4 linked regions of the Homo sapiens genome follow. The protein of the gene in region 2 interacts with the protein of the main gene of each other region in a pairwise test. Each region holds a gene or a part of one and is shown on either strand. Other genes may lie near its edges. The genes, in order: CYP4F22, TLCD4, NDUFA3 and STATH.

What was found.
Region 1: the proteins of TLCD4 (region 2) and CYP4F22 interact in binary tests that used the Homo sapiens proteins (3 or more experiments, as listed by UniProt).
Region 3: the proteins of TLCD4 (region 2) and NDUFA3 interact in binary tests that used the Homo sapiens proteins (3 or more experiments, as listed by UniProt).
Region 4: the proteins of TLCD4 (region 2) and STATH interact in binary tests that used the Homo sapiens proteins (3 or more experiments, as listed by UniProt).

The regions. Positions count from the first base shown.
Region 1 is NC_000019.10:15,511,351-15,518,667, reverse strand, and holds part of CYP4F22 (ultra-long-chain fatty acid omega-hydroxylase), read right to left. Parts: intron 1-7,317. UniProt on the Homo sapiens protein: A cytochrome P450 monooxygenase involved in epidermal ceramide biosynthesis. Hydroxylates the terminal carbon (omega-hydroxylation) of ultra-long-chain fatty acyls (C28-C36) prior to ceramide synthesis.
Region 2 is NC_000001.11:95,190,190-95,197,506, reverse strand, and holds part of TLCD4 (TLC domain-containing protein 4), read right to left. Parts: intron 5,958-7,317; coding exon 5,639-5,957; 3' UTR 1-5,638.
Region 3 is NC_000019.10:54,098,038-54,105,854, reverse strand, and holds the start of NDUFA3 (NADH dehydrogenase [ubiquinone] 1 alpha subcomplex subunit 3), read right to left. Parts: upstream 3,001-7,817; 5' UTR 2,977-3,000; coding exon 2,967-2,976; intron 2,742-2,966; coding exon 2,667-2,741; intron 1-2,666. Other genes in the region: OSCAR (osteoclast-associated immunoglobulin-like receptor isoform 1 precursor), read left to right, coding at 5,063-5,099, 6,075-6,107, 6,254-6,265. UniProt on the Homo sapiens protein: Accessory subunit of the mitochondrial membrane respiratory chain NADH dehydrogenase (Complex I), that is believed not to be involved in catalysis. Complex I functions in the transfer of electrons from NADH to the respiratory chain.
Region 4 is NC_000004.12:69,991,271-69,999,234, reverse strand, and holds the start of STATH (statherin isoform a precursor), read right to left. Parts: upstream 3,270-7,964; 5' UTR 3,210-3,269; intron 813-3,209; 5' UTR 798-812; coding exon 747-797; intron 1-746. UniProt on the Homo sapiens protein: Salivary protein that stabilizes saliva supersaturated with calcium salts by inhibiting the precipitation of calcium phosphate salts. It also modulates hydroxyapatite crystal formation on the tooth surface.

The sequences.
Region 1 (7,317 bases), on a different chromosome or scaffold from region 2:
TTTTTTTTTTTTTTTTTTTTGAGACAAAGTCTCATTCTGTCGCCAGACTGGAGTGCAGTGGCGCGATCTCGGCTCACTGCAAACTCCGCTCCCCGGGTTCACACTATTCTCCTGCCTCAGCCTCCTGAGTAGCTGGGATTACAGGCGCCTGCCACCACGCCCAGGTAATTTTTTTTTTTTTTTGTATTTTTGGTAGAGATGGGGTTTCACCGTGTTAGCCAGGATGGTCTCGATCTCCTGACCTCGTGTTCCGCCCGCCTCGGCCTCCCAAAGTGCTGGGATTACAGGCGTGAGCCACCGTGCCCGGCCTTTTATCACGGTTTTTCTTTTAGAGGCAGGGTCTTGCTGTGTCACCCAGGCAGAAGTGCAGTGGTGCAATCATAGCTCACTGCAGCCACAAACTCTTGAGCTCCAGAGATCCTCCTACCTCAGCTTCCCCAGTAGCTGGGACTACAGGCATGCACCACCATGCCCAGCTAATTTTTAAATTCTTGGTAGAGATGGGGTCTGGCTATGTTGTCCAGGCTGGTCTTGAACTCCTGGTCTCAGACAATCCTCCCACCTCAGCTTTCCAAAGTGCTGGGATTCTAGGCATGAGTCACCTCATCCAGCTAAATTTAGACTTTTTGTCATGGACCACAACAACCTACATGGCTTACCCCTGTTGATGCCTCTAGCCCTGTCTCCCACCACCCTCCTCCTCACTTGCTCACCTCAGGCTGCTCCAGGCCACTCCTTCCACAGGCCAAGCAACTTCCCGTCTCAGAGCCTTTGCACATTCTGTTCCCTCCATCCACATTCCTTTCCTCAGCTGTGCCCACACCAGCTCCTCATCCTCCAACCCCAGCTCTGCCCTGATGGTCCACTCCTTTGCACCACAATCAGCCACCTCCCCTAGATCACTCTCCAAAGAATCATTGAGTGCCTGTTATGTGTGATGATTTTCACTATCATTCACTCCATCTTCCCAGTAAGCCTTAAAGAGAGCTGGAAGACTTCTGAGTGAAATCACAGCTAGAGCCCCCAACTCGCACCCAGGAAAATCCCAGCTGAAATCTCAACAAAGGAAATGTCTTCTGGAATGAATGAAATGGGAAAGAATTGGGATAAGAGAAGGTGCCAGCCCTAGAGAGGGATCCCTGCTCCAGGTGGCTGGGTACATGGGGAGATGGGTGCTTGGGGAGGGTGAGAGAGGGGAGTTGTGGAGCCCTGTGTCCGCTTCACCTCCCCGTCCCCCTACCAGACATGGGCTGAAGTCCTTCCCAGGACAAACAACCCCTGGCTCTGCCCCCAGGCAGGACCACATGTTGTGAGTCCCCAGTTGGGACACTCTCTGGAAGCCTCCAGTTTCTCCACTACAAAATGGGAATCATGACAAGAGGTCCACCAGATGCCCATGGGAAGACCACCATGAAAGGTACATTGGGGAAGTCCTATACTTTCCACAGCTGGGGTCCTCCTGTCCCTCAAACAAGAACACTTCTGTCTGGCACCCACAAAAAAAAATAGTGCAGCCACTGTGGGGAAACCCTAGAATTATCATTTGAGGTCGGGCACGGTGGCTCACACTTGTAATCCCAGCACTTTGGGAGGCTGAGGTGGGCGGATTGCCTGAGGTCAGGAGTTCAAGACCAGCCTGGCCAACATGGCAAAACCCCTTCTCTACTGATAATACAAAAAATCAGCCATGCGTGCCTGTAATCCCAGTTGCTTGGGAGGCTGAGGCAGGAGAATCGCTTGAACCAGGTAGTCAGAGGTTGCAGTGAGCCAAGATCGTGCCACTGCACTCCAGCCTGGCAACAGACTCCGTCTCAAAAAAAAAAAAAAAAAAAGAATAACATCTCTTCAGGCCACGTACCCCATGGACCTCTCATGAGATCCTCTGAGCAAGTGGACTATCTTTCCAGAGTCCAGGGATTCCAGGTTGAATACAAAGACTTCCCCAAAAACAACAAGAATGAATTTGTATCTCTTATCCATTGCTCCTCTCAGCCGCCTCTGATCAGCCATAGTGTTATAAGTAAAATGTTTATTCAGAAATAGAATGCTTGTTCCTCGGTACTGCAAGTAAAAATCAGCATTCAGATAATAAGTTTTCTCAGCAAGGCAATTTTACTTTCTGCATAAAGGGTGCTCCTTGCAGATGGAATAATGGCGAGAGCACACCTGAACAAAGGAGGGAAGCAATTTTTATCCCTTATGCAGTTTGTCCTTGCTACTGTGTCCTGTCTCCATTGGCTGAAGCAAGACCTCACAATCTAAATTAAACCTGACTGGCTAATAATTTAAAACTTTCCTAAATAGGTAAAGGCAATAGAGAGCAAAGGAAAAGAGGAAGTTGCTTACAAAAGGACTTAGAAAAGCAATAATATTTCCAAATAAGGAAAGGGCATGGGCTGCGAGCTGGGACATGCCTGTGAGCACATCCAGCACAGATATCTTGGTTAAAGTACAAGGACGTAGAATGTACTATGTGCCTGTGAGCATGTCTAGTACAAATATCTTGGTTAAAGTACAAAGACATAGAATGTACTTATTCTCTTATATCTAACACATAGTATTGGCAAGGATGTTGAGTCCTGCTATGATATGGCTGCACTAAACATCTTTTTCTTTTTCTTTTTTATTTTTCAAGACCGAGTCTCGACCGGGCGCGGTGACTCATGCCTGTAATCCCAGCACTTTGGGAGGCTGAGGCGGGCAGATCACGAGGTCAGGAGATCAAGACCATCCTGGCTAACATGGTGAAACCCCATCTCTACTAAAAATACAAAAAATTAGCCGGACGTGGTGGCGGGCGCCTGTAGTCCCAGCTACTCAGGAGGCTGAGGCAGGAGAATGGCGTGAACCCAGGAGGCAGAGCTTGCAGTGAGCCGAGATCGCGCCACTGCCCTCCAGCCTGGGTGACAGGGCGAGACTCCATCTCAAAAGAAAATAAAAAAAAGACAGAGTCTCGCTCTGTTGCCCAGGCTGGAGTACAGTGGTGCTATCTCAGCTCACTGCAGCCTTTGCCTCCCGGGTTCCAGCAATTCTCCTGCCTCAGCCTCCTGGGTAGCTAAGATTACCGGCATGCGCCACCACACCTGGCTAATTTTTGTACTTTTTAGTAGAGACGGGGTGTCACCATATTGGCCAGGCTGGTCTTGAACTCCTGACCTCAGGCGAACCATCCACCTCGGCCTCCCAAAGTGCTGGGATTGCAAGCGTGAGCCACCGTGCCTGGCCAGCTGCACTGAACACCTTAAAGTTGCTGTCTGAGTTGGACCAACAAAGTACAGAGATGCCAAGAACAGGAAATGGATCAATGTCTGTGTGTGGGAGGTGCTGAACCTTTTCTGGCCATGAACCATTATAAAATCCCAACATATACACTGAAAATATTAAAACTGCTTTGAAAATTTGGAATTTCTGATACCTCTAGTGGGCCGAGAGACGGTGGGTAAAGGATGTGGGCAGCAGCAGGGAACACAACAGGGGAGGTGGCTGTGGCCGGGCTGGACTGTGCTGGGGTTTGTTGTGACGGCCACTCGGTGACCTGGCTGTCCCTACGCAATACCAGCTGCCTTTGGGGAAGAAGGGCTGCCCAGCCAGCTGGCTCTCCTGGGGCACCAGCAGATCCACGCCCTGGGCACCTTCCTGTTTGGTCTTTTTTTTCCCGTGTGAAAGAAGAAACTGAAAGCATGACCCCTTCTCAAGCTGGCTTAGTTGGGACAAACCCTGGACAGCCACACCAGAGAGAGGCCTTCAACCAGCCCCAGAGCTAAAAGCACCAGAGAAAGTCAAATGCTTCCTATTCAGCATGACCTAACTTCTAGTGTGCCACGGCCCCACCACTTCCTGCAGTGCCCACACCATCACCACTGCTTTCTCTTCCAACAGTGATCTGTATTCTTAGTTTCATTATTTCCTTTTTATTGGTATGACACTATATAAAATTTTCCTCCTTCCTGCCTTCCTTCCTTCTTTCTTTCTTTCTTTTTCTTTCTTTCTTTCTTTCAAGACAAAGTCTCACTCTGTCACCCAGGCTGGAGTGCAACGGCACAGTCTTGGCTCCCTGCAACTTCTGCCTCCCAGGTTCAAGCAATTGTCTGCCTCAGCCTCCCGAGTAGCTGGGCCACCACACCCAGCTAGTTTTTGTACTTTTAATAGAGACGGGGTTTCACCATCTTGGCCAGGCTGGTCTTGAACTCCTGACCTCGTGATCCACCCGCCTCGGCCTCCCAAAGTGCTGGGATTACTGGCATGAGCCACCGTGCCCGACGACACTATATAAAATTTTCATTTGAGAGTTTCTCAACTGTATCTAATTATATCGCACAGTTTGGAAACTTTTCTGAGACTGACTTTATCAATAATCTAACCGACAAAGATCATATCCACGTGTATGTAGTTAGACATTTTTATTTCATTGACTAACCCAGCACCATTTCAGTGATGCAAATTACGTGCCCTATGGTTCAGCTGAAACAGTCCTGGACTTTCAAAAACCTTGAATAAGTCTCCCACAGTTGTATAAATTGGACAATTTAGGAATTTTAAACTTTAGATGATCATTTGCTTCCATTTTTATTTTATTTTTATTTTTGTTAATGCAAACAGGACTTAAACAAATGAACTTTGATCTCCATTTTAAATATTCTTTAAGAAAATCATGTGTCTATACATACGGCTCTTGAGGACTTAGCTTTCACTACACTACAGGATATGATCTCCACATAGTTCACATAAAACTGCAGACTGATTTTCCAGAGTGCTCGATACTATTAATTACATCTCGATTAGGGCTGAAAAGTATGACCTATGTTTCTTTATACAGTTGTGTTGCTTTTGATGTTGTGTTACTATACACAGAAGTGTGTGCACTGGGCCGGGTGCGGTGGCTCACGCCTGTAATCCCAGCACTTTGGGAGACCGAGGGGGGTGCGGATTGCCTGAGCTCAGGAGTTCGCAACCAGCCTGGACAACACGGTGAAACACCATCTCTACTAAAATACAAAAAAATTAGGCTGGGCGTGGTGGCTCACGCTTGTAATCCCAGCACTTTGGGAGGCCGAGGCGGGCAGATCACGAGGTCAGGAGATCGAGACCATCCTAGCTAACACGGTGAAACCCCGTCTCTACTAAAAATAAAAAAAATTAGCCGGGCGAGGTGGCGGGCGCCTGTAGTCCCAGCTACTCGGGAGGCTGAGGCTGAAGAATGGCGTGAACCCGGGAGGCGGAGTTTGCAGTGAGCCGAGATCGCGCCACTGCACTCCAGCCTCGGTGACAGAGTGAGACTCTGTCTCAAAAAAAAAAAAAAAAAAAAATATATATATATACAAAAAATTAGCAGGGCGTGGCAGCATTCGCCTGTAGTCCCAGCTACTCAGGAGGCTGAGGCAGGAGAATCGCTTGAACTCGGGAGGCAGAGGTTGCAGTGAGCCGAGAACATGCCACTGCACTCCAGCCTGGGTCACAAAGCGAGATTCCGTCTCAAAAAAATAAAAATGAAAAAAGAAGTGTGTGCACTGAGGCTCTGTGTGTGGTCCATATGGAAAGCCTGGTACCCCTGCGAGTTAAGTACTGCCTCCATTCATCGTTTACACTGGAGTTTTTCTCCTCATGGAATGCGAGTAAAACTTAGTGTTTGTCACCAATAAATGGTAATACAAAAAAGAGAGAGAGAGAGAGAGAGAAAAGCTTTGAGGACCCAGGAAAAATGGTGGCAGCCTCTGGAAAGGGCCTGAAAGAACTCGGGACAGGGGTGGAAGGGAAACTTAAGTTTACTATCCACTTTTCCAGTCGTTTTGGTTTCCTATACCATGAGCACATGTCACCCATTCAAAAAAAATTGAATCAATTATAAAAATTCATTAGTTTACTGCATGACACAAAGAGTGAATCCTAATGTAAACTATGGAGTTTAGATAATGGAGGAAAGGTATCAGCCAGGTGAAGTGGCTCATGCCCGTAATCCCAGCACTTTGGGAGGCCAAGATGGGAGGATCACTTGAACCAAGGAATTTGAGACCAGCCTGTGCAACATAGTGAGACTCCGTCTCTACTAAAAAACAAAAAAATCAGGCCAGGCATGGTGGCTCATGCCTGTAATCCCAGCACTTTGGGAGGCTGAGGAGGGAGGATCACTTGAGGTCAGGAATTTAAGACCAACCTGGGCAACATGATGAAACCCTGTCTCTACCAAGAAAAAAAGAAATAGCTGGGCATGGTGGTGGATGCCTGTAGCCCCAGCTACTTGGGAGGCTGAGGCAGAGGTTGCAATGAGCCAAAATCTTGCCACTGCACTCCAGCCTGGGGGACAGAGTGAGACTCTATCTCAAAAACTAAAATTAATTTAATTTAATTTAATGTTCACTTTTGACTTCAACAGGCCTGGGTTCAAATCTCAGCTCTCCTATTCCCTAGGTTAGCAGCCTTGGGTGAACCCAGTCCCTGCCATCAGCCTCCCTTTGCCAATCTGTGAAATGGGTTGATAATAACAGGACCTACCCCCTAAGGTTTTTGGGACGGCTCAGTGAAATGAGGCATGGAAAGGCCTTGTCACGTAGCTCACAAAATGTTAGCCATGATGACTACTCCTATTATTGCTATTTGATAGAAGTGAGAGCAATTCAAAGGTGACACCCTCAGAATGTTGTGGGCGGCTGGCATGTCCACTCCCTATCTACACCGGCCCCCGATCTCATCCAGCAGGCCCGCCTTGGTAGAGGTGGCCCTGCCCTGCCAGGGCCCGCATTATCTGGTGGTGGTGAAAGCCAGCGACTGGCTCCGTGTCCCGGCCCACGCCCAGGTCGCGCTGGTTTGTCAGGTTGGCCCAGCCGTTCACCCACTGAGGACTTGTTATACAAGGTGTGTGGGCTCCCAAGAAGGAGTGGAGGGCACGGACCCAGGCCGACGCCAGGTACGAGATACATGCCTCTTCTTGAACTGCAGGGGCTGGGACCAGCCAGGAGCCTGATGGAAGAGCACCCCAACGCTGGCCCCATCACCCCAAATCCCAGCCCTCCTTTTCACTCCAAGCCTGTAGTCAAGGCAGCCTGCCCCCGTCCCCACTGATTCATGGTGCCACCTTGGCTTCCTCAACATCAGAGGGCTGGCTTACCCCAGAGACTCACATATTCCCCCAAAGTGCCAGACCCCAGAAGGCTGGAGCTGAGAGGGGACTTCTAAGTTGTTTTGTTGTTGTTGTTGTTTGTTTGTTTTGTTTTTTAGACATGGTCTTGCTGTGTCCTTCAGGCTGGAGTGCAGTGGTGTGATCTTGGCTCACTGCAACCTCCCCGTCCTGGGCTTGAGTGATCCTCCCACCTCAGCATCCTG
Region 2 (7,317 bases):
TCATGGAGGGGAGGGGGAGAAGGGTAATTTACAGGGTGTTCATTTTATCATTCTTGAAATGTTAACTAAAAATTTCAGGACAAAATATGTCAACCTTGTATAACATGCAGATTATTGCTTAGAACTTGCATATACTTTAAAATGGCACACATAAAGTATACAAACATTTCAAAATTTTAATGGAAATAACTTAGACATTTATTATCCCTCCAAATAAAACAACCAGGAAACAAAATAAAGAATGCCAAGTTGCTATTTTAAGTACTGATAAGTCCTAGTAACACTGATTCATACATTATCTAGTCTTACATTTTGTAAATAAAAGTTCTTCAGCCTTATGGAAATAAATTAGAAGGTATGTTCTCAAAATGGTATTAAGTATATTTTGAAAGACTTCCAAAAATCTTTGACAATTATATATTATACATTCTCAGAAAAAAGTATATATCTATGTATCTATATATATCACTATAGTTCTATTTACTGCTTTCCAAGTAGCTTTTTCAAATAAAATCTAAAAGTCATTATTATTACAAATTCTAATACCAAAAAATCTCATAACTTATCCTATTTACAAGTTAGTGAGAGTATTATCTACACAAAATTCCTTAAATAAAAAGTAGACATAGTCATACCAGAAACAAACCAAGCAGGAAACAGAAAAACACAGAGCACATTCTATATACAGCTATACCTTTAGGCTTGTTAAGTAGCAAATAACCCTAATGTACACTTAATTACAGAAATAATTACATAAAGATATAAAGAAAAAATATCCAAAGATGTTTAACGAGTTTTCAGCCAGAGGTACTGTACTTATAAATCTTTGAGATTTAGAAATATTTCTGGTTTTGGTCTTATGTATAGGGCCTGATATCAAAATGGTCCACTGCTTAGAGTGAATAAGTGTAAACATTTTCAAAGCAAACAAACCAATCTTTAGGAGCTGCTTTCAATTCTTCACTGCTATCCAAAATATATTCCAATAAAGGTATGAATTATTATCAAAACTAGAGGCTGGCCTAGTCTGGCCTAGAAACGGGTAAGGTTCAAGCCTTGGATGTTGTACTTTGGAAAACACCAAGTAACGCAGTTGCTGGTAAATTTGTTTTCAAAGAAACATTACCATAGCAAAGTTTTCCCTAAAGAGCAGGACTCTAAAATAATTTTGGCACAAGCCAGCATCCACCCTCTCATAACACAGAGTTATCTCAGTTCCTCTGTGCTCCTGTCATGGGGTCTAAAAAGAACATTTAGATAATTTACAAGCCTATAATAAATCTTCAGCTGAAACACATTACAAAGCTCTGACTGTTAAACCAGTTTAAGAAAAACAGAGATGACAGATCTCTTAATAAAACCATAACATTATTAGCTTTGCCTCATGTTGTAAACAGTTATTATTAAATGCTGAATGGCTTCCTGTAGTCTCTTAATAAGTCATGATTTGTCTGAGCTCCACTTTAAACTTTACTACAATGCTTTTTTTCAATGAGAGAACCTATTTGTAAACTTTTAAATTTGCCATAAGAGACTGGGAAGCTTATAGATACATGGGGAGGTCTCAAAAGTTGACAGCGAAAGGTGTTAGCATAAAAGAGGGAGATGCTGATGAAGTCATCTGGTGTACCAGGAGGAAGAGATGGAAGGATTCAAAGAGAATACTTCTAGATCAAGGGAGGACTATCACGGCGTTTAAGGGAAAAGCACTCTCAATGCCTCCTCTAACTCCAGATCCTCTAGCTTTTCATTGTTCCTACACACCTCACATGTGTTTTGCATCAGAACTCACTTTCAGTAGCTTTAATGTATTTCAATGAGCTGTGTTTAAGGTTGGGAAGATATATGTGCATCCAGAGACACATGAAGGGTCTCGCTGTATGCTGGCTCGCACCTGAGAAACACTGTGCTACTCTTGATAAAATTATCTAAGTTCAACTTCTTATGGAATCCAAACACATAAAAATACATAAACCTTTATGAAGTATTATTGATGATGTCAATACATGAACTTTTCCATTTCAGCTAATAGACTAAACCACCTAAAGCTATTCAAATGCACATTTATTTAAATGTTTGGAATTAAGAGCAACCTAGAAACAGAAAACGTGTTCAAATATTTATTTTAACAGCATCTTTTGGAACATGTTTATTTCCCTTAAAAACGACACAGAGGAAACATGTACACTGTAACAACACCTTCCCCTCTGTTTCTCCAGAAGAAAAATGTTTCTGCATGCCTGATAACAGATGGTGCAACCAACAGTAAACCTGGCTCTCTACACCAGTGAAGAACCATTCTCCAAATGCCCAGTGTGCCTCAGAGGAAATATACAATTTAAAAGTTGACCCTGTAGCAAAAATTTTGAGTCAAATTATTAAAATTTAGAAAAGAACTGGATTCAAATACTTACAAACTAGGCAGTTTTTAAAACTAGACCTTTAAGACCGTCCTGGGTCATCCATAATATATCAGAGTCACTCTTAGGGGTGGTAACAACATAAATAGTATTTCACTTAACGTAAGGCTAGTCCATGAAATAATAAAATCAAACAGTTGGGATAAAAATTTAATTCAATTTACTGTAGGGTATCAACACATATTTGAGCAGAAGTCAATTTCTTTGCACTCATATATAACTTCATTTCCAGTTTTACATAAATGCAAATAATCCTTTAAAAGATTTTAGACATAAGAAGGCAAACTTTATAAGTTATAGCTCATAATTTTCAAATTTTCACAAATAAAAATTTAATGCAGGATCTATGATCTTGCATGCTATTAGTTGGTTTTCATTCATTTTTTAAGTTTCACAAGAACTTTTATTTTCTAGGATACTACACATTCAAAAAACATCTTTATAATTACAGGTTATCTTTTTTCTACAAAAATAGAATTGCTCAAAAATTTATATCAATTTGCTTTTATTTTTCTATAAATATTTTAATAGAGTTGTTAAATATCAGAATGCCTGATAGAATCATTTAAATTAATCCGTGTAGTCAAAATACTTAATATTTAAAATGTCTAGCAAACGTTTTTCATTTAATAAATGAAAAATTCATCGTGCAGTAAATGATATGTTCTGTCTTCATTTGTATTTTAGGTAGGTGAATACAATCATAGAACAGCAAAGTGTACCTCCTGCAAAGGTCAGACTTAAAAGTAGCAGGGCAGTTTCTAGTGGCATTTCCATTCCATGTCTGTTGTATGAGGAAATATATAGAACCTACTTCAGGATATTTAATCTGGATGTTGAATTAACTCATGCAGCCAGCATAAGATAAGGATTGCTGAATAAGAGAATCACAAACTTTAGTTCAAAATTTTGATGTTTTAAATATACTTATTTAGTGAGTGGCTATACCAGTGAAGGGTAACATTAATGAAAGTAAGAATGAAGTTTTAAGCATGAAACAGTAACTATAAAAACAAACTGCTACATGGAGACTCACTAATATAGCTTTATATTGTTTTCATTTTGATAGTGGGTTTAAAATCTGTGTTCAGAACTATAGAAATATCCAGAGTCAAAAAATATTTATCTCAAGGTCTCTTTCTAAAAGAATGAATTTCCAAAATAGTTTTATTATATAAATTTTTTTAAAGCCACTTTTCCTGCAAAAAGGTAAGAACAAGATAAAACCGCTTGCTTTCCTACCCCCCTCTAGTTAACCAGTACATATTTAAGCACCTATGATGTGGACAGCACTAAATTTAGCAACAAATTATCAGTGTAATATTAGCTGCTTTAAAAATAACTATTATTTTACATTAATTCTTTCAAAAATAAATGTACCTAGTATAAGCCAATCAATCTCATTTTATCATTTAGTTACTGACTGAGATTTCAATCTTCTTTAAATGTTCTAAAACTTATCAGGCTCTATCTGCATTGAATAATAAAAGCAAATCAAATCAAAAGTCTTGATTATATTCAGCTAGCATGAACAATGAAAGTGAGTCAAACGTTCTCCTTCAAACTGAGAAACTGGATTACATCTTTTGGTATGAGTTCAATTAATTTCAAGTATTCATCACTGGTAGAATTAAATTTCTTCCTTTCTCAGGTAAGAATAATCATTAAACTCAAGTGCTTAAAGAATAAAGGCAATAATAGATAAATATATAATTCTATATTTGGATTGCAAGAATTAAAGTAAAAGCAAAACACATACACACACAACCAGAGTCGCCAGTCATTTATCTTCATATAATCAGACAATAATTTTGATGATAGAATACTTGGATTAAATTACCTTTTTTTTTCTGTGCTTTAAGATAGAAATTCAAAGCACTAAAATGCCAACTAAGTAAGCACGGGTATGAATTGTGAGTAAAATATGAATACTGATATTTTTGTAATAGTTTGGGTCTCATCAAGAAGAGGCCTATTTCAGGAGCATAATAAATACATATTGCATAAGACTTTGGTACTGATGGTGCTGGGTTCAGAACTCAGGGAAGATTTTGCAAACAGAAAATATTTTTCACAGAAAAAGTGCAAGGAAAGCAGATAGGGATAAACAGTGTTAAAACTTTCTTTCTTAATGATTCCTCCGATTAGCCTAAATAGTCCTCTATCAACATGCATTTTTAGAAGAAGAAACTCATCTCTTAAGGAGGTCTATAATCTGTCTTAAGCCTTATTATAAAATAAAAAAGCAATAATTTGATAAAATGCTAAAATAGAAATGACAGTGATATTTGAAAAAATCTTAAAATGTGGGAAGTATTCTCCATGACTAAACTAATTAAATATTCCCAAAGTGGTAAAATATTTCATCATTAATAGGTGATTGCATGTCTGAAATGAAAAATGTTGTTACTTCTGAATAGCCTGAGAAAAAGAACATGCCAACAATTTAGAAATTAAACCCTACACAAGTGTTGACAGCCATAGTAAGAAAAGAGTGCATACAACAAATGTTAAGAGCTATTTACAGATTTAAAAGCAGTTCCCATTCTTGCAGCAAAATTGGTGACATAAAACCATTTGTACCAGATTATCATAGTCATCTTTCACAGAGAAAAAATACCAATGCAGTTAAGAGATTTCTCAAAAGATTCACCATTATATTGATCATTTTTATTTAAACCTTTAAGATTTTTATCCATGCTTGTAAATAAGGCAAAAGAAAGGCAGAAAAGACATCTTGGGATGAAAACTAAATTTTAATTTTAGTTTCTCTCTTTTTTTTTTTTTTGAGACAGAGTCTTGCTCTGTCGCCCAGGCTGGAGTGCAGTGGCACAATATCAGCTCACTGCAACCTCCGTCTCTCGGGTTCAAGCGATTCTCCTGCCTCAGCCTCCCGAGTAGCTGGGATTACAGGCGCCAACCACCACGCCCAGCTACTTTTTTTTGTATTTTTAGTAGAGATGAGGTTTCACCATGTTGGCCAAGCTAGTCTCGAACTCCTGACCTCAGTGATCGACCCACCTTGGCCTCCCAAAGTGCTGGGATTACAGGCATGAGCCACCGTGCCCGGCCTTCTCTTTTCTAAGGTTTAAAAAAAATGACACTGAAATCCTGAATAACAATTATAATTAAGAAAGGTACACAAGAACATGCCAAGAATTCATCCTATCAGCAGATATGCTGGGTAGTAATGAAGTTTGCTTATCGGTAGCACTCTTTTAATCAAGTTTTCCATTCTGAAGACTATTTTTGGCTTTCTCTTGTCTGATGTGAGAGATGACTTTGATGCAACCTTTTGAAATTTTGATCATCCACATGACATTCATCACATCCAAAACAACACAACTAATGACCCAGGATAACTGGATTAAAACTCCAAGCCTTATGTAGGGTTCTGTTCCATACACGGAATACATGAAGCCATAATGAGGAAGCATTGAGGCAATCCGCACGATGAAGAATACTACTGTCATGAGTATTCCATTGATAACGATAGCTTTAGAAAACTTGGGATACTTCAGAGCTTCAAAGAACCACCTGAAAAATGAATTAAAGAAACATCACATTTATAGTGCATCTCTGAGGATTAACCATTTTTATTTTAGTTTTTAAATTTTAAAATTCAGTGAAGGAGGAGCAAAGGGCCTAGAATAGCATACGCAATGCTGAAAAAGAACAAAGTTGGAGGACTCACACTACCCATTTCCAAGACTTAACTATAAAGCGACAGTAATCAAGTCAGCATGGTGTTAGTGAAAGATCAATAAACCAATGGAAGAGAAAAGAGAGCTCAGAAATAGACCCACACAAATATACTCAACTGATTTGTGACAAAAGCATAAAGGTAATTCAGTGGAGAAAAAAAGTCTTTTCAACAAGGTGTGCAAAATTGTATATCAACATCGAGAAAAATGAAGTTAAGCAGAGATCTCACACCTTACACAAAAATTAACTCAAAATGGATCATAGACCTAAATGTAAAATGCAAAACTATAAAACTTCCATAAGAAAAAAGGAAAAAAACCTGTATGATCTTGCATCTGGTGGTGCTATTTTAGATACAACACCAAAAGTGTCATCCATGGAAGAAAAAGTTAGTTAAGTTGGACTTCGTTAAAATTAAAACTTGCTCTGCGAAAGACACTGTTAAAGAAAAGACAACCACACACTAGGAAAAAATATTTAAAATATACATGTATGGTAAAGTACATGTATACAAAGTACACAAAGAATTCTTAAAAGTCAACAATAAGAAAACAACCCAATTAAAACACTGGTAAAAGAGCATAACAAAAACCTCATCAGAAAATATATATAGATGAAAACTAAGCATATAAAAAGATGTTCACTATTGTCATTAGGAAGTGCAAATTGCAGTGGCTCACGCCTGTAATCCCAGCACTTTGGGAGGCTGAGGCAGGTGGATCACCTGAGGTCAGGGGTTTGAAACCAGCCTGGCCAGCCAGGCGCAGTGGCTCACCCCTGTAATCCCAGCACTTTGGGAGGCTGAGGAGCGTGGATCATCAGGTCAGGAGTTCAAGACCAGCCTGGCCAAGATAGTGAAACCCCGTCTCTACTAAAAATACAAAAATTAGCCAGGCATGGCGGCGGGCACCTGTAATCCCAGCTACTCAGAGGCTGAGGCAGAGAATTGCTTGAACCCAGGAGGCAGAGGTTGCAATGAGCCGAGATCACACCACCACACTCCAGCCTGGGCGACAGAGCAAGATTCCATCTCAAAAAAGAAAAGAAAAGAAAAGAAAAGAAACCAATGTGGCCAAAATGGCGAAACCCCATCTCTACTAAAAATACAAAATTATCTGGGTGTGGTGGCGCATTCTTGTAATCCCAGCTACTTGGGAGGCTGAGGCAGGAGAATCTCTTGAACCTGGGAGGC
Region 3 (7,817 bases), on a different chromosome or scaffold from region 2:
GAAGATAAAGTGCGCAGGGGGAGGGCAGCAGGGAGGGCCAGCACGTCCAGGAGGATCCTTGGTACCTTGGGATCCCTACTTATAGACAGGAGGGTTTAAAACTCTTTTTTGGGGGGTTAAGTGGAGGTAGGGGTTGGAGCCTAACACTCACAGATACGTGGGGCCTGGAGGAGGCAGCAGTGGGGTTGGTCATGGAATGAGCACGTTTGAGTGTAGGGTCATCATGGAGCATCCTGGGGGTAGTGTCATGGGACTGTTCTGGAGAAATCAAGACTGTTACAAATTTGGCCGGGCACAGTGGCTCAAGCCTGTAATCCCAGCACTTTGGGCGGCCAATGTGGGCGGATCACCTGAGGTCAGGAGTTCGCGACCAGCCTGGACAACATGATGAAACCCCATCTCTACTAAAGATACGAAAATTAGCCGGGCGTGGTGGCAGGAGCCTGTAATCCCAGCTACTCAGGAGGCTGAGGCAGAAGAATCCCTTGAGCCTGGGAGGCAGAGGTTGCAGTGAGCCCAGATTGTGCCATTGCACTCCAGCCTGGGCAACAGAGAGAGACTCCATCACCAAAAAAAAAAAAAAAAAAAAAGCCTTACAAACTGGAGGAGAAAGGGTTGCACAAACAACAGTCACTGACCACAGTCCATTTAGGGTGGGAGCCAGGAGTCCTGGGGGATGGGGTACAGTTCATAAAAGGAATGTTCTAGGCCAGTGCTGTCTGACAGATGGTAAGAGCCAGGTATATAATTTTATATCTTCTAGTAGCTACAGTAAAAATAAGAGATACAGATGAAACAAATTTTAAGAAACATACTTGGATGGGCGAGGTGGCTCATGCCTATAATCCCAGGACTTTAGGAGGCTGAGACGGGTGGATCACCTGAGGTCAGGAGTTCGAGACCAGCCTGACCAATATGATGAAACCCCGTCTCTACTGAAAATACAAAAACAGCCAGGTGTAGTGGCATGCGCCTGTAATCCCAGCTACTAAGGAGGCTGAGACAGGAGAATCGCTTGAACCCGGGAGGCGGAGGTTGCAGTGAGCCGAGATCAGGCCATTGCACTCTAGCCTGGACAAAAGCGAAACTCCGTCTCAAAAAAACAAAAACAAACAAACAAAAAAAACCATAGTACATCCAAAACATCACTTCGCCATGTAATCAACAAAAGATTATTGGTAGTTTACACACTCTGTTATACTAAGTTTTTGAAATCCAGTGTCTTATACCACCTCAATTCATACCAGCACCACTTCAAATGCTCAGTGGCCAGTTGTGGCTGGTGGCTGCCATACTGAATAAGTGTTCAGAACCTTAACCTAGTGCCTGGCTGGTGGACCAGCAGTACTGACAAGACCTGGGAACTCTTCAAAAATGCAGAATCCCATGCCCCACCCCAGACCTACAGAATCAGAACCTACAGTTTGGCCGGGCGCAGTGGCTCACCCCTGTAATCCCAGCACTTTGGGAAGGCAGATCACTTGCGGTCAGGAGTTCAAGACCAGCCTGGCCAACATGGTGAAACCTTGTCTCTACTAAAAATACAAAAATTAGCCGGGCGTGGTGGTGCTCGCCTGTAATCCCAGCTACTTGGGAGGCGGAGGCAGGAGAATCACTTGAACCCTAGAGGCGGAGGTTGCAGTGAGCCATGATCAAACCATTGCACTGTAGCCTGGAAGACAGAGCGAGACGCCATCTCAAAAAAAAAAAAAAAAAAAAGCTGGCCGGGCGCGGTGGCTCACGCCTGTAATCCCAGCACTTTGGGAGACCGAGTTGGGAGGATCACGAGGTTAGGAGATCGAGACCATCCTGGCTAACACGGTGAAACCCCGTCTCTATTGAACATACAAAAAATTAGCCGGGCATGGGGGCGGGCGCCTGTAGTCCCAGCTACTCGGGAGGCTGAGGCAGGAGAATGGCGTGAACCCGGAAGGCGGGGCTTGCACTGAACCGAGATCGCGCCACTGCACTCCAGCCTGGGCGACAGAGCGAGACTCAGTCTCAAAAACAAAAACAAAAAATTAGCTGGGCGCCTGTAATCCCAGCTACTCGGGAGGCTGAGGCAGGAGAATCCCTTGAACCCAGGAGGCCGAGGTTGCAGTGAGCCGGGATCGCGCCACTGCACTTCAGCCTGGGTGAGAGTGAGACTCCATCGCAAAAAAAAAAGCTACATTTTAACAATCCCCCGCCCCCATCCCTGCAGGAACTCCGGTGCTAATTAAAGTGTGAGTAGGGCAGTTCCAGGGCAGAGGGCAGAGATTTTCAATCAGCAAGGCACATTGGGATCATACGGGGATTTTCACAAGACACAGATTCCCCAGTCCCACCTCCACCCAAGCCAACTCAATTCAGAATGGGGGAGAGGAAAGATGAAAAGGAGGAGGAGGATCTGGACTTTTTTTTGGTGCTCAGGTGTTAAGGCATAAGCAGGGTTGAGAACGTCTCATTTAGAGGGGTTAAGAGCGTATTGGGTAGGTGGAGAGGAACGCGGGGGGCGATGGTGGAGAGGTTATAATGGGTATGGGGATAGATAAGGGGATGCCGTGGGGGTGCAGACACACTAGAGGGGACCCGAGGGCGGCGATAGGGCTTTAGGGGTACAAGATGGAGGGATGTAGGGGGACGGGGGTGGACGATGCAAGTTTGCGCCTGGAGCACTCACGCACCGAGGCCCCCGACGACGAAGGACACGACCAGCACTGGCTCCTTGTCCCAGGCATTCTTGAGGAAGGCGCCGACTCCTGAAGGGGTGGCAAGAAGCGTCACCCCTGCAAGTAGCTGCCCCCGGTGACCTCTAACCCTCTCGTGCCACCCCTGCCCTGGAGGAGCCCCCTCGTGACTTCTGCGTTCCCCTCCAGCACGGACCCCATCGCTTCCACCCCTGCCCTGCCGCACCTCAGTCCCAGGACCGCCCAGAGGTTCCCAGAACTACCCGAGCCCCGTGCGCCACCGGCACCTGCACTTACTCGCAGCCATCTTTGTCTCCGCGGCGGCGACAGCGGCGAGGACGCGGAGCACCCTGGGAGTTGTGGTCCCTATGCGCGAGAACCCGCTCCCAGGGCTGCGCGTGCGCCCTGGAGCACAAGTAGAGGCGAAAGCAAGGACGCGGAGCACTCTGGGAGTTGTGGTCCCTCTGTGCGACGGCCCGCTTTCGGAGCCTGCGCGTGCGCACTCGCGCAGAACAAAGATGGAGCCGTGGAGGTAAAGGAAGTGGTGTCAGGAGCAAGCGCAAGCCTGACTTTGCGGACCTGCGTGGAATCTCCTTAGTCTCAGCCTAGAAGTCGCTCCGGAGTGACTAGTCCTCCTGCTGCGACCCACCTAAGGCGGAACAAAATAGTCCCCATTTTATAGTTTATGTATGAAAGCCCATTTTACAGACGAAGAAACTGAGCCCGGGAGAAGGTGAATGACTAACCTGTCCTTCGAGGTCTCAGCTCAACATCGGCTCGTCCTGGAAGCGCTAGGTCTCATCCCAGATGGGTTAGGAGCTTTCTGCGGGCTCTCACAGTGCTCTGTTACCGCCATTATAGCTCAGATCACTTAAGAAACTGACCTGGTCTGGGCCAGGCGCGGTGGCTCACGCCTGTAATCCCAGCACTTTGGGAGGCCGAGGCGGGCGGATCACGAGGTCAGGAGATCTAGACCATCCTGGCTAACATGGTGAAACCCTGTCTCTACTTAAAAATACAACACAAATTAGCCGGGCGTGGTGGTGGGCGCCCGTAGTCCCAGCTACTGGGGAGGCTAAGGCAGGAGAATGGCGTGAACCCGGGAGGCGGAGCTTGCAGTGAGCCGAGATCACACCACTGCACTCCAGCCTGGGCGACAGAGCGAGACTCCGTCTCAAAAAAAAAGAAACTGACCTGGTCTTGGTCTTTCAGTCGGACTGGTAGCTGCTGCTTGAGAGCAGTAACGGAGTCTGAGTTCCCTCTGTGCCTGCCAACATGGCACAGCGAGGGTCTGGCACGTAATAGGTTCTAATTTTTTTTTTTTTCTTCTGAGATTGAGTCTAGCTCTGTCGCCCAGGCTGGAGTGCAATGGCGCGATCTCGGCTCACAGCAACCTCCGACTCCCGAGTTCAAGCGATTCTCCTGCCTCAGCCTCCTGAATAGCTGGGATTACAGGCGCGCGCCTCCACAGCCGGCTAATTTTTCTTTTTTAGGAGAGACGGGGGTTTCTCCATGTTGGTCAGGCTGGTCTCGAACTTCCCGACCTCAGGTGATCCACCCGCCTTGGCCTCCCAAAGTGCTGGGATTACAGGCGTGAACAACCGCGCCCGGCCTAGAGGGGCTAATTTTTATCTATCTATCTATCTAACACAGTATCACACCAAGAGCCTGGCACATAATAGGTGCTAATTTTTCTCTGTCAACCAATCTATCAATCGATCAATTAATCACAGCAAGGGCCTGGCACATAATTGGTGTTAATTTTTATCTATCCATCAATCAATCACAGCAAGGGCCTGGCACTTAACAGGTGCTAATTTTTATCTATCTATCTATCTATCTATCTATCTATCTATCCATCCATCCATCTATCTATCTTTCAATCACAGCAAGGGCCTGGCACATAATAGGTGCAAATTTTTATCTATCTGTCAATCAATGACAGCAAGAGTCTGGCACATAATAGGTTCTTATTTTTAAAACAGACAGATATCTTTCTATCTGTCTATCTATATTTAAAGACATGGTCTCACTCTATCACCCAGGCTGGAGTGCAGTGGCACAATTTATTTATTTATTTTTTAGACAGGGTCTCGCTCTGTTGCCCAGGCTGCTCTTGAACTCTTGGGCTCAAGCGATCCTCCTGCCTCCACCTCCTGACTAGTATTTGTTTCTAGAGTTAAATAAATGAACACCACAGGTTATGACTGAACCCCCTGCTAATTTTTCCACAGTGCCATAGGGCTATGACACAGTCACCCACAGGCCCCCACCTCGATACTCTCTTCCGTAAATGAGGATCTGGGTCTGGTTTTCTGATGTTGCCTCATTTCCTGGGAGGGGAGAGGGTGCGACCAAGCCCTGGCTCCAGCTCTAGCGGGTATCTGCCCACCATGGCCCTGGTGCTGATCCTCCAGCTGCTGACCCTCTGTGAGTCACCCCTTTCTTCTCCCTGGGTTCCTGGCTGGGGTTGGGGGCAGAGAGAGAGGCAATGGAGACCCAGACACCCTGCAGGGGGACCAGGCAGCAGGTTTGGGATTCTAGGTTCAAATAAAGAACAGGGCTGGGGCCCAGACCCCTGGGTCCTAAAGCAAGAGAACACAGATTCCCGAAAGAGGAAGGAGGTGGGGACAGGTATCTCTGGTTCTTGAGGCAGGAAGAGGTCAGGAGACAGGGAGGACTCCCAGATTCTTATATGGGAGGGGGATGGAAGCCAGGACTCCTGATTCCCTGGGAAAAGGGGGCTGGGAACAGGGCTCTTAGCTCCTGAGAGAAGAGGGAAATGGGGACCCAGATTCCTGAACTCGTGAGAGGAGAAACTCTACGATCATTGTTCCCTGGAAAGGTGGAGTTCAAGGGCCTGAACTCTTGGTTGCCCAGGCCAGAGGGGTCTGCGTTCAGACTTCTTCGGTAGGTGGGCAATGGATGTCCAAATTTCTGCCTACTGAGACAGGAGGAGGGAGGGATAAGATTCTCATTTCCCAGAGGAGATAGGAGCTGGGAACTCAGATTCCTGGGTTACCAATGAGATGGGGCTGGCCACAAAGGGTTTTGAAAAGAACTCGCTGTTGGGCGCAGCGGCTCATGCCTGTGGGAGCCGAGGCCCAGCACTTTGGGAGGCCGAGGCGGGTGGATCACCTGAGGACAGGAGTTCAAGACCAGCCTGACCAACATGGCGAAACCCCTCTCTACTAAAAATACAAAGATTAGCCTGGTGTGGTGGCGGGCACTTGTAGTCCCAGCTACTACGGAGGCTGAGGCAGGAGAATCACTTGAACCTGGGAGGCAGAGGTTGCAGTGAGCTGAGATCACACCACTACACTCCAGCCTGGGCGACAGAGTGAGACTCTGCCTCAGACAAAAAAAAAAAAAGGAAAAAGAAACTAGTCCCTCAACCTCCTACAGGGCCTCTGTGTCACACAGACATCACTCCGTCTGGTGAGTAGCCACCCCATCCACTCTCCTTTTGTTGCTGACACCCCTTTTCCAATTACTCAGATTTTATTTTGGTGCCCAATCCCATCCCAGATATCCTTATTTTCCTCCCTCCCTCCATTCCTTCCTTCTTTTCTCATTCCCCTTAGTGGCCATTATAGGTGAGTACTGAAGACCAGGAACTTCTGAGGCAGAGGCCTAAGCTAGGACCTCAGTTTCACCATCGTATTCATTTATATGTGACCATATGACCTAGAACAAGTCACAGCTTGCTAAGACTCCATTTCCTTCTCTGTAAAATGGGCCGCTGTGAGATCTCATCAAATCACATGTGCAAAACCCTGAGCCTGGCACAGTACAGGGCTTAAGAAATAGGATCTTGGGCTGGGCGCAATGGCCAACGTCTGTAATCCCAGCACTTTGGGAGGCAGAGGCGGGCGGATCACAAGGTCAGATCGAGATCATCCTGGCTAATGTGGTGAAACCCCGTCTCTACTAAAAAAAAAAAAAAAAAAAAAAAATTAGCCGGGTGTGGTGGGACGCACCTGTAATCCCAGCTACTCAGGAGGCTGAGGCAAGAGAATCGCTTGAACCCAGGAGGCAGAGGTTGCAGTAAGCTGAGATCGCGCCACTGCACTCCAGCCTGGGTGACAGTGCAAGACTCCACTTCAAAAACAAACAAACAAACAAAAAAAACTCTTTTGGAGATATTTCAGTGTCGCTATAGCTATCTCTACCTATTTATTTTATTTATTTATTTATTTATTTTGAGACCAGTTTCTCTCTGTCGCCCAGGCCGGAGTGCAGTGGTGCAATCTCGGCTCACTGCAACCACCTCCTGGGTTCAAGGGATTCTCCTGCCTCAGCCTCCTGAGTAGCTGGGACTACAGGCACACACCACAATGCCCGGATAATTTTTGTATTTTTAGTAGAGACAGGGTTTCCCCATGTTGGTCAGGCTGGTCTGGAACTCCTGACCTCAGGTGATCCCTCTGCCTCAGCCTCCCAAAGTGTTGGGATTACAAACATGAGCCCCCTCACCCGACCCTTATTTTTATTCATTTTTAGAGATGGGGTCTCATTGTGTCACCCGGGCTGGAGTACGGTGGCTCTATCATAGCTCACTGCAGCTTTGAATTCCTGGGCTCAGACAATCCTCCAGCCTCAGCCTCCCAAAGTGCATGCCACCATGGAGTTCTCACTCTGTTGCCCAGGCTGGAGTGCAGTGGCATGATCTCAGCTAACTGCAGCCTCCGACTCTAGGGTTCAAGTAATTCTCCTACTCAGCATCCCAAACAGCTGGAACTACAAGCTAGCACTACCACGCCTGGCTAATTTTTCTGTTTTTAGTAGAGATGGGATTTTACCATGTTGGTCAGGCTGGTCTTGAACTCCTGACCTCAGGTGATGCACCCACCTTGGCCTCCCAAAGTGCTGGGATTACAGCTGTGAGCCACCGGACCCAACAGCCTTCCTGTACTCTTAATTTGTGTGATTTGTGAATAAGTGATATCTGCCAGTACTATCATTTGTCCTCTAGTTTTGTCTTTTAGCATACACAACTTAAGAAATTTGAAGTGGTCAAATTAATTAATCTTCCATACAACTTTTTATTTTATATTTTAAGAAGCCTTCCTTACCCCAAGACAAATATATTTTCCTATAGTTTTTTGAATACTTTTATAGTTTAAAAAAAAAGAAACACAGGGTCTT
Region 4 (7,964 bases), on a different chromosome or scaffold from region 2:
CAAATAATGTGGTATACTGTGATTTTATAATCAAATTAGTTTTTGAAATATCTGTTAGAATTTACCAGGTAAGTTGAACTATTTTTATTCTTTCATGGCCAGTTTCCTACTAATGTCATAGAAAAGGGACAGGAGAAATAGAAGGAAGTAGAGTAGAAGAAAGAGCTCCAGAGAAGTCAAGTGCTTTACCTAGTGATACATAGTAGTAAATGACAATAAAAGCTGGGAACTCATAACATGTCATAGATCTGAAGTTTTGTTTTATAGTTAAAAATAAGCAGCTTTATTTTAGAAAGTGTGTGCTAAATAATTGTATACTAATTTTAAGTTAGTTTTTGCAAGGAATGACTTGAAAATTTCTACTTTGACATCTTCTAATACTTGAATTCCACTCAAGTGCACCTAGTTCATTCCTGAGATTTCTAACTTCAGATTGTCTAGAGCATTACATGTTTAAAGATACTTTTAGAAGCTCTCAGTTCCACATATTTAAGAAGTTCAGTAAAACTTTCTTTTATTTCACACTAAGCTAAATATACTTTAGTGTCTGTAGATGAATAATGACTATTTATTCTAAATCCTTATATAGCTTATGTAGGTTAGTACAAAAAAAAGTTCATATGGAAACATTTAAACATATAAAGCTGTATTCAAGTAAACACCAATATATGCCAGAACACAAGGAATAGAGAGACTCTTGGGATAGGTACTGAGAACATATTCTTCAAATGTCCTGATATACTTACAATCATGGAAACCATGAGAGCCAAGATGAAGGCAAAGACAAGGAACTTCATAGTTGGCTGGGTTCTCTGAAAACATATGTGGAAATTCAGTATCACATTTTTTCTTGCATTCGCCCATCAAAAGTTTATTGATTATACTACGCTCCAAAGCACTGGGAGACACACTCCAGATAGAAAGACAATTAAAACCCATTGCCTGACATCATGAAACTTGGAGACTTGTTGGAGACACTGATAAGTAAAAGTGAGTGTATTGATATGGAAATGCTAAGGCATTAGAGTAACACACAAATCAACACCTTACACAGACCAAGAGAATAGGGGTATGAAGGTAAAGAAGAAAGTAAAGCTTGAGTTGGATTATGCAGGATGAGTAAAGAGGTGTTGGGTGACTGCAAGAAAATGAAAAAGAGGGAGGATACCATATTGAAAGTGCAAACAGTTCAAAATGTAGGGAAGATAAAACTGGAGCAGTTTATCAGAAGATAAAACTGGAACAGTTCAAAATGTAGGGAAGATAGAACTGGATATTATGGGGCGCCTTAAATAATGACATTAGGGATGATATTTAAGGTACAGTGTAAAGAGATGTTTGGATGTTAGAATGACCAGCAATGGGCAATCGCTTTATAATGTTACTGAAAATGAGCCAGATTTCTGTCTTGAGAGTTGCAAAAATGGGGTCACCTTCAGATTAGAACATTAATGATACTGGGTAGAGAACAATCAAACTGATAAGAAGTCACAGAGAAAATATTCGTACCTCCTCTGAGAAGTTGAATTGGTGAAGATGACTTAATATTTTAAATAATCTCATTCAACAAAATTAACCTTATCTGGGACTGTGATATGTTATCATAAACAGTATAAGCCAGTTAACCCAGTTCCTTTGTTATTAAACAAAAAACGTTAGATTATTTATTTGTAAATTATAAACATCTAAATAAAGACATTTTCAGTGAAACACATAATTGCCACAAGAGTTACAAATAAATGACATTTTTACCTGTTTATTGAAAACTATAGAGTAATTCATATAAAGGTAATGGTCTTCATTATTTTAATCTCTTTTACCAATAACTTGTGATAAAACATTACAAGAATATTTTTTACCTAATTATAAAAAAAATTACTGTTATTAATAACCCCAAATCTCCAAAACATAAAGCAGAACTCATGATTTATGGCATTTGCTTTGTTACTTATTCACTGATTTGCCTCAGTTATTCAAACTGAAATTTCTGGCCGGGTGTGGTGGCTCATGCCTGTAATCACAGCACTTTGGAAGGCCAAGGTGGGCAGATCACCTGTGGTCAGGAGTTCAAGACCAGCCTGACCAACATGGAGAAACCCCGTCTCTACTAAAAATAATAATAATAAAAATTTAGCTGGGCATGGTGGTGAGTGCCTATAATCCCAGCTACTTAGGAAGCTGAGGCAGGAGAATCACTTGAGCCCGGGAGGTGGAGGTTGCGGTGAGCCGAGATTGCACCATTGCACTCCAGCCTGGGCAACAAGAGCGAAACTCTGTCTCAAATTAAAAAAAAAAAAAAAAAAAAAAGGAAATTTCTGGTATTAGAGTAAGTGTAAAAATAATATGTACTTTGGGGTTTTTCTATCACCTGATAGATAAACCTACCCATCAGTCATTTTATGATGCAAAAAGCATAAAAACTTTAGTGTATTTTATACCTGTAAATTTTATTGAAAGTATGGAATCAAAAAATGCTCATAGAAGAGTAGTTTTGTTTTACTAACCTTGATAAACTGAAAGATGGATATATAGACATAGATATATAAATATATATGTCATGGTTTTAAAAAAATATTTCCCCAATGAAAAATAATAAAAATATGAAATAGTAAAATCTTTGTTTTCTGCCATATCACAACTGAATGAAAACAACTTAAGTAATATAAAACAGTAAGGCAGTAAAGCATGACTGTTATACAACATTTTTTATTATGCAGAATGACATAACTGTTTAAAATGATGGAAAGGTCAATGAAAAGGTAGTGAGAAATGTTTACTTATGGGAAAAAAGTAAATTTTTAAAAGTTAAACTTGTGAAACAATATATACATTTGCAAAAAAGAGAACGTATGCTATTTTCTTAAAATATGAACTTCGAATAAAGGTAAAAGTAGTAAGTAGCAGAGTAGATGCCAGTACGTAGACAAGGAAATAAAAAGCTTTTCAGAAGTTCCATCAGGAGAGAAGTTGGAATATGTCTCCATATTCCACATTATTTACTTTGCATGATGATTGCTGATTTCAATGTATAGTTATTCAGATTCTCAACTTACCTTCAGATCCTAAGAAGGTCATCATTTCTCTCAATTGTTTCTTTATGAGAAATTATCATTACATAAATACACATTTTTATAATTAGTTTTCAAAAGATTTTAGGAAGCAACACTCTAGATTAAGACAACATATTCGATTATACATGAACATATTACCTTTTACTCAAGATGAGACTACAGAAGTAGTGAAGTTGAAGTGAAGCTTCAAGAGATGATGTGCTACCCTAGAGGGCCAATGTATTTAAACACTCTGAAGTCCCCCATTTGTTTTTGTTAAATAATGGCAATTATGAGATCACATTATGGAAACTAAAAGTAATGCCCAAAATCTGTCTCTACAAATGATAAAAATAACCGTAACAAAGTGATTTTGCAATAGATGATTGTGAAGACAAAGTAACCAGGAAACAACTGTACCCACTGCATGTTAATCCCACTGTTAGTCTAGCGCTGAGTGAGTCAGATGACAGAAAAGCATGCTGGAGGAAACCAGGCATAGAAATAATTGCAGTGATAAAGATGTTTCCACAAGTATGTGTCCAAGGTGGAACAACTCTATGACACAAATAATACTTACCATGTTATCAAGATTTTACATGTTCTCTGATAACTCGTGGTAACTGGCATAATAAAATTACAGTCTTCATATACTTCAAGAGTTTTTCTTCAAATCATTATTTATCTCATACTTTTACCATCTTCTATTGACTTTAGAATATTTTAAGTTACAAAGTGAACGTAAACATTTGCCAAATTCAGTAATCTTTTGGGTACTATATGATAAAAAATTATTATATTTATGGTGAAATGACTCTAAGTGCTCACTGATACATATCTCACATATGACTGAATATATGTATTTGGAAATTCAATTTAATTTCCTGGAGTTTTTAAGGCTACATATTTTTCCATAGCAGCCATGTGTTGACATGATTACACTAGAGTGAAGGAAAAAATGTTTTCATTACATTCCTAGGAAAATTTGTGTAAAAATTACCCTACTCACTGCTGGTTGGATAACTCAATGTACTAAGAAACGAATATCAAAAACTTATATATAAAGTTGAGGTAAGTTATACAGCCTAGTGCATTGTTCCTCAGAGTGTGCCATATGGGAACATCACAGACAGCATCAGCTGGAGCCTGTGGAAATGTAAATTCTTAGTCCACCTTCGCAAACTTGCTGAGTCAGAATCTTGGGGTTGTCCTAAGGCGTTTGCATTTTAACATTATCTCCAGGTGATTCTTTGGGTACTGTGAAGTTTGAAACAAGGCTGGTCTCAGTGGCTCATGTCTGTAATCCCAGCACTTTGGGAGGCCGAGGCAGGAGGATTGCTTGAGCATAGAAGTTCAAGAATAGCCTAGGCAACATAGTGAGACCCGTATCTCCACAAAAACATAAAAAAAAAAACAACCACATATTTGTCTCTTGAATGCATTAGTTATCCTTAGGCTTTAACCAGTAAAGATAATTTGTGGTTTAATTTTGTATCAGATTTTTTAAGGAAGTATTTATTAGGTAAATTTTTATGCTGTATTGGAACAGCCTTACTGGAAATTATGATTACTCTCTGGGTAATATACAAGAAAATATAAATCATTTCTTAAGGCAAATAAATAATTCAAATTAAATTAGATAGATATTATTCTTATTCTTTTGTCATGAGATTTATAAGCATTATAGATACAAAGTTTCTTCTCATGTGTAAAACAAACACAATCTCTTTACATTCTGAGTGGAAAAAAGTTACATAGGGTTCAGTAACTATTTTATTTTTCCAGAGATGGGGTCTTGCTGCATAGCACAGTCTTGAGTGCATTGGTGAGATCATAGTTCACAGATGCCTGGAACTCCTGGGCTCAAGTGGTCCTACAACCTCAGCCTCATGTTTAGCTGGGACTACAGACATGTGTTATCACTCTTGGTTAATTTAATTTAAATTGTTTTTGGTGGAGACTTGGTCTTGCTATGTTGCCCATGCTGGTCTTGAACTTTTGACCACAAAAATCCTTCTGCCTTAGCCTCCAAGTAGTGCTGGGATTGCAGTCATGAGCCATTGTGCCTGGCCCATGGTTCAGTAACTACTGAACTATATCTGATTTTAAAAATAAACTGCTTCGATTACTTGGGGAAAGTCAAATGATTTTCTTCTTTTCTTCTTTCTTTCTTCTCCCTCTCTTCTCCTTTCTTACCTCTGGTTTTCTTCACCACTTCATTTATCCAACAATACTAGGTACTGTTCTAGTAGATCTAAGGTATTCATGTTCTAGTGAACATAAAGCAAACTAATAGCCCAAAGGCACTAACAAACAGCAAACTACATGGTAAGAAATATTGATACATCTTAATATACACACTTTAAAATTACAGTTAAACTTAACTCATCTACATGTTATGTTGGAATACCAACATGTAGGCATTAGTCCACCCATCATTTTCTGCTTCCCCAAGTTAGGAAGTGTGGGGATTATGTATGATAGGTCAAACAAGGATAGCAGACTAGAAACAAAGGAGTGACCTTCTCGTGTTAGTTATGGTCCCACCCTCCAGGAAGAGCAGACCAATTTAGAAGACTGATGAACCAGAACATGACTTCATATTTTATAATTAAAGAAAACAGATATCTTATCCTCTATGCCAAACACTGTTCTCTTTGAAAATGTCATGACCTTTCGTTACAAAGGAAACATCAACAAAGAACTACTGCTTTATCACAGGTGAGGCAATACAATTTTTGCTTAAGGATACAACCCATGAATGGGTATTTGTAGTGATGTTTATGCTGGGCTCTCCTCAATCTTGCTTCTCTATCTTCTTTACTGCCGTCTCCTTCTCCTCTTCCTCTTCATCCTCCTTGTCTTCCTGCTGCTCCAGTTGCTGCTCCTCCTTCTCCTTATTCTGCAATTCTCTTATGATGGAAACATGAAACCATTTATGACCAATATCCATGATATTTATTTATTTAACTAAAAATGTTATATTATGTTCCTGTTTGAATTACTAAAATGACATATATGATTGACAAATGCTGAACAACATATGATAATCTACTAGATAGATAGAATGTTGTTTATTCTGGAGACATGACATGAGAAGCTTTACTCTTGTTCTTAAGGAGTTTACAGTATAATTTGTGAATCAGACAAGGATAAAGGCTAAGACAGAGAAACCCAGGAAAACATGAGTCTAAAATTGGGAGAAGAAGGTCAACAATGGAGTTGCAGATTGGGCACTTATCATCTTATTGATTGTAATCAAACTATGAGATTATTACAGCTTATACAATCAAGATGTGTAGAGTCAGAAGAGAATAGGCTGAGGACAGATATCCTGCTGAGCACTGATGTAATGTGTAAGAGAAAATAGAAAGTCTATGAAAAAAATCTGTGATGGAAAAGAATAGCAGAAGAGGTATTTCTCGGCTGTTTGTATGTTGTGGAAGCCAAGAGGATGAAACATCAGGAAGGAAATGTTAATTACCATGTTGCAGTGACCTTATAGGTTGCTTAGTTTGCTTTATGTCTTTAAACTAAAATTTTCTTATTTATAAAATGTTACAGTAATACGTGAAACTTAAAGGAGAGTATATAAAAATCACATTGTAAATTAAAATGACTCAAATGCAAATATTAGATTCTATCATTATTATAATTTTCATCATCATAATCTTCATGAAAAAGAACATCTTAATTTTTAAAATTCTCCAAGTATAAAGGAGGAAATACAAAACCAGGAACAACAGGAATATATCTCTGGAAAAACATTAGAATCATGTCAATGATCAAGATGTTGCAGAGAGTTACAAATCTGGTCAAGTATAGATTAATTTATAAACAAGTGAAAGTAGAGAGCTTAAATGGGTTAGATCAAATGGGCTCAGTTTTTAATTCAGAGTAGATTGTTTTCTGGAACTGACTACAAGGTAAGATGAGTTGGATATTTCAGAAAACTTAATGATACATTTGGACATTTTATTGAAGGGAAAGGGTGAGAGCTATAAAACTAAATACAAGAATATTATTTGCTTAGCAACATTGTATGCCACATTTATAAAACATAAAATAAATTCTTTTCTTTGTACATTTGCGTTTTCTTGGTAGAGATGCAGTGTAAGAAGATTTAACAATTAGTAGGATTGAGATTTTAGCAAATATAATTAATCAAATTCAGACTTCACTGGAGTTGTTTGAGTTATTGAAAGTATGTACTAAATCATAAATATTAAGTTGTAGGTTAGGAGAATATGGAAAAAAAGAATGAACAGGTAGAACAAAAGGATGTAAAACTATTAAGGGCCAGCAGGGTTCTGTAATGCCAAAGTAAGGGATCTATGCTTCAACCCTTGCCTCCCTTCCAAAATATAAATCAGATCAATGCCTGATCCAATGGCATTTATCTCAATCCAAAGGCTATCTTTGACCTATGGCGCTTCAATCATCTCCTCACCTCTTTTCTGTAATATAGTTTATTTTAATCCACATCTTTCCTTCTCTATTCATGCTGTTTTCATTAGAGTTTTCCCAAACGCAATAAATGTATTTCTACCACAGTAGAATGCAGCCCTGCTATTTCTTCTGCTGGATTTTTTTTTTCATGCTAACTTATGAACATAAGCACTTCATATGTTTTCTAAAATGCCACTGTGCCAGAGAAGCTTTTCTTGACCATCCTATTTTAAATTGCCTCTTTGCCTTAGTCCTGCCTTCTTCATCTTTAGCACACTTATGATTACTTGAGATACTATGTATTATTTTTTCACTTGTTGTTTCTATCTCCCAACTACAGTGTAAACTGCCTGAAGGCCAACTTTCATCTCTCTTAGACCTTGCTGCATGTGCAGTATCTAAAGAGGGCCTTGTCAGGCCATCGAGTGTCACTCAATGTATAAATGAAGGAAAGTAATTGCTGAC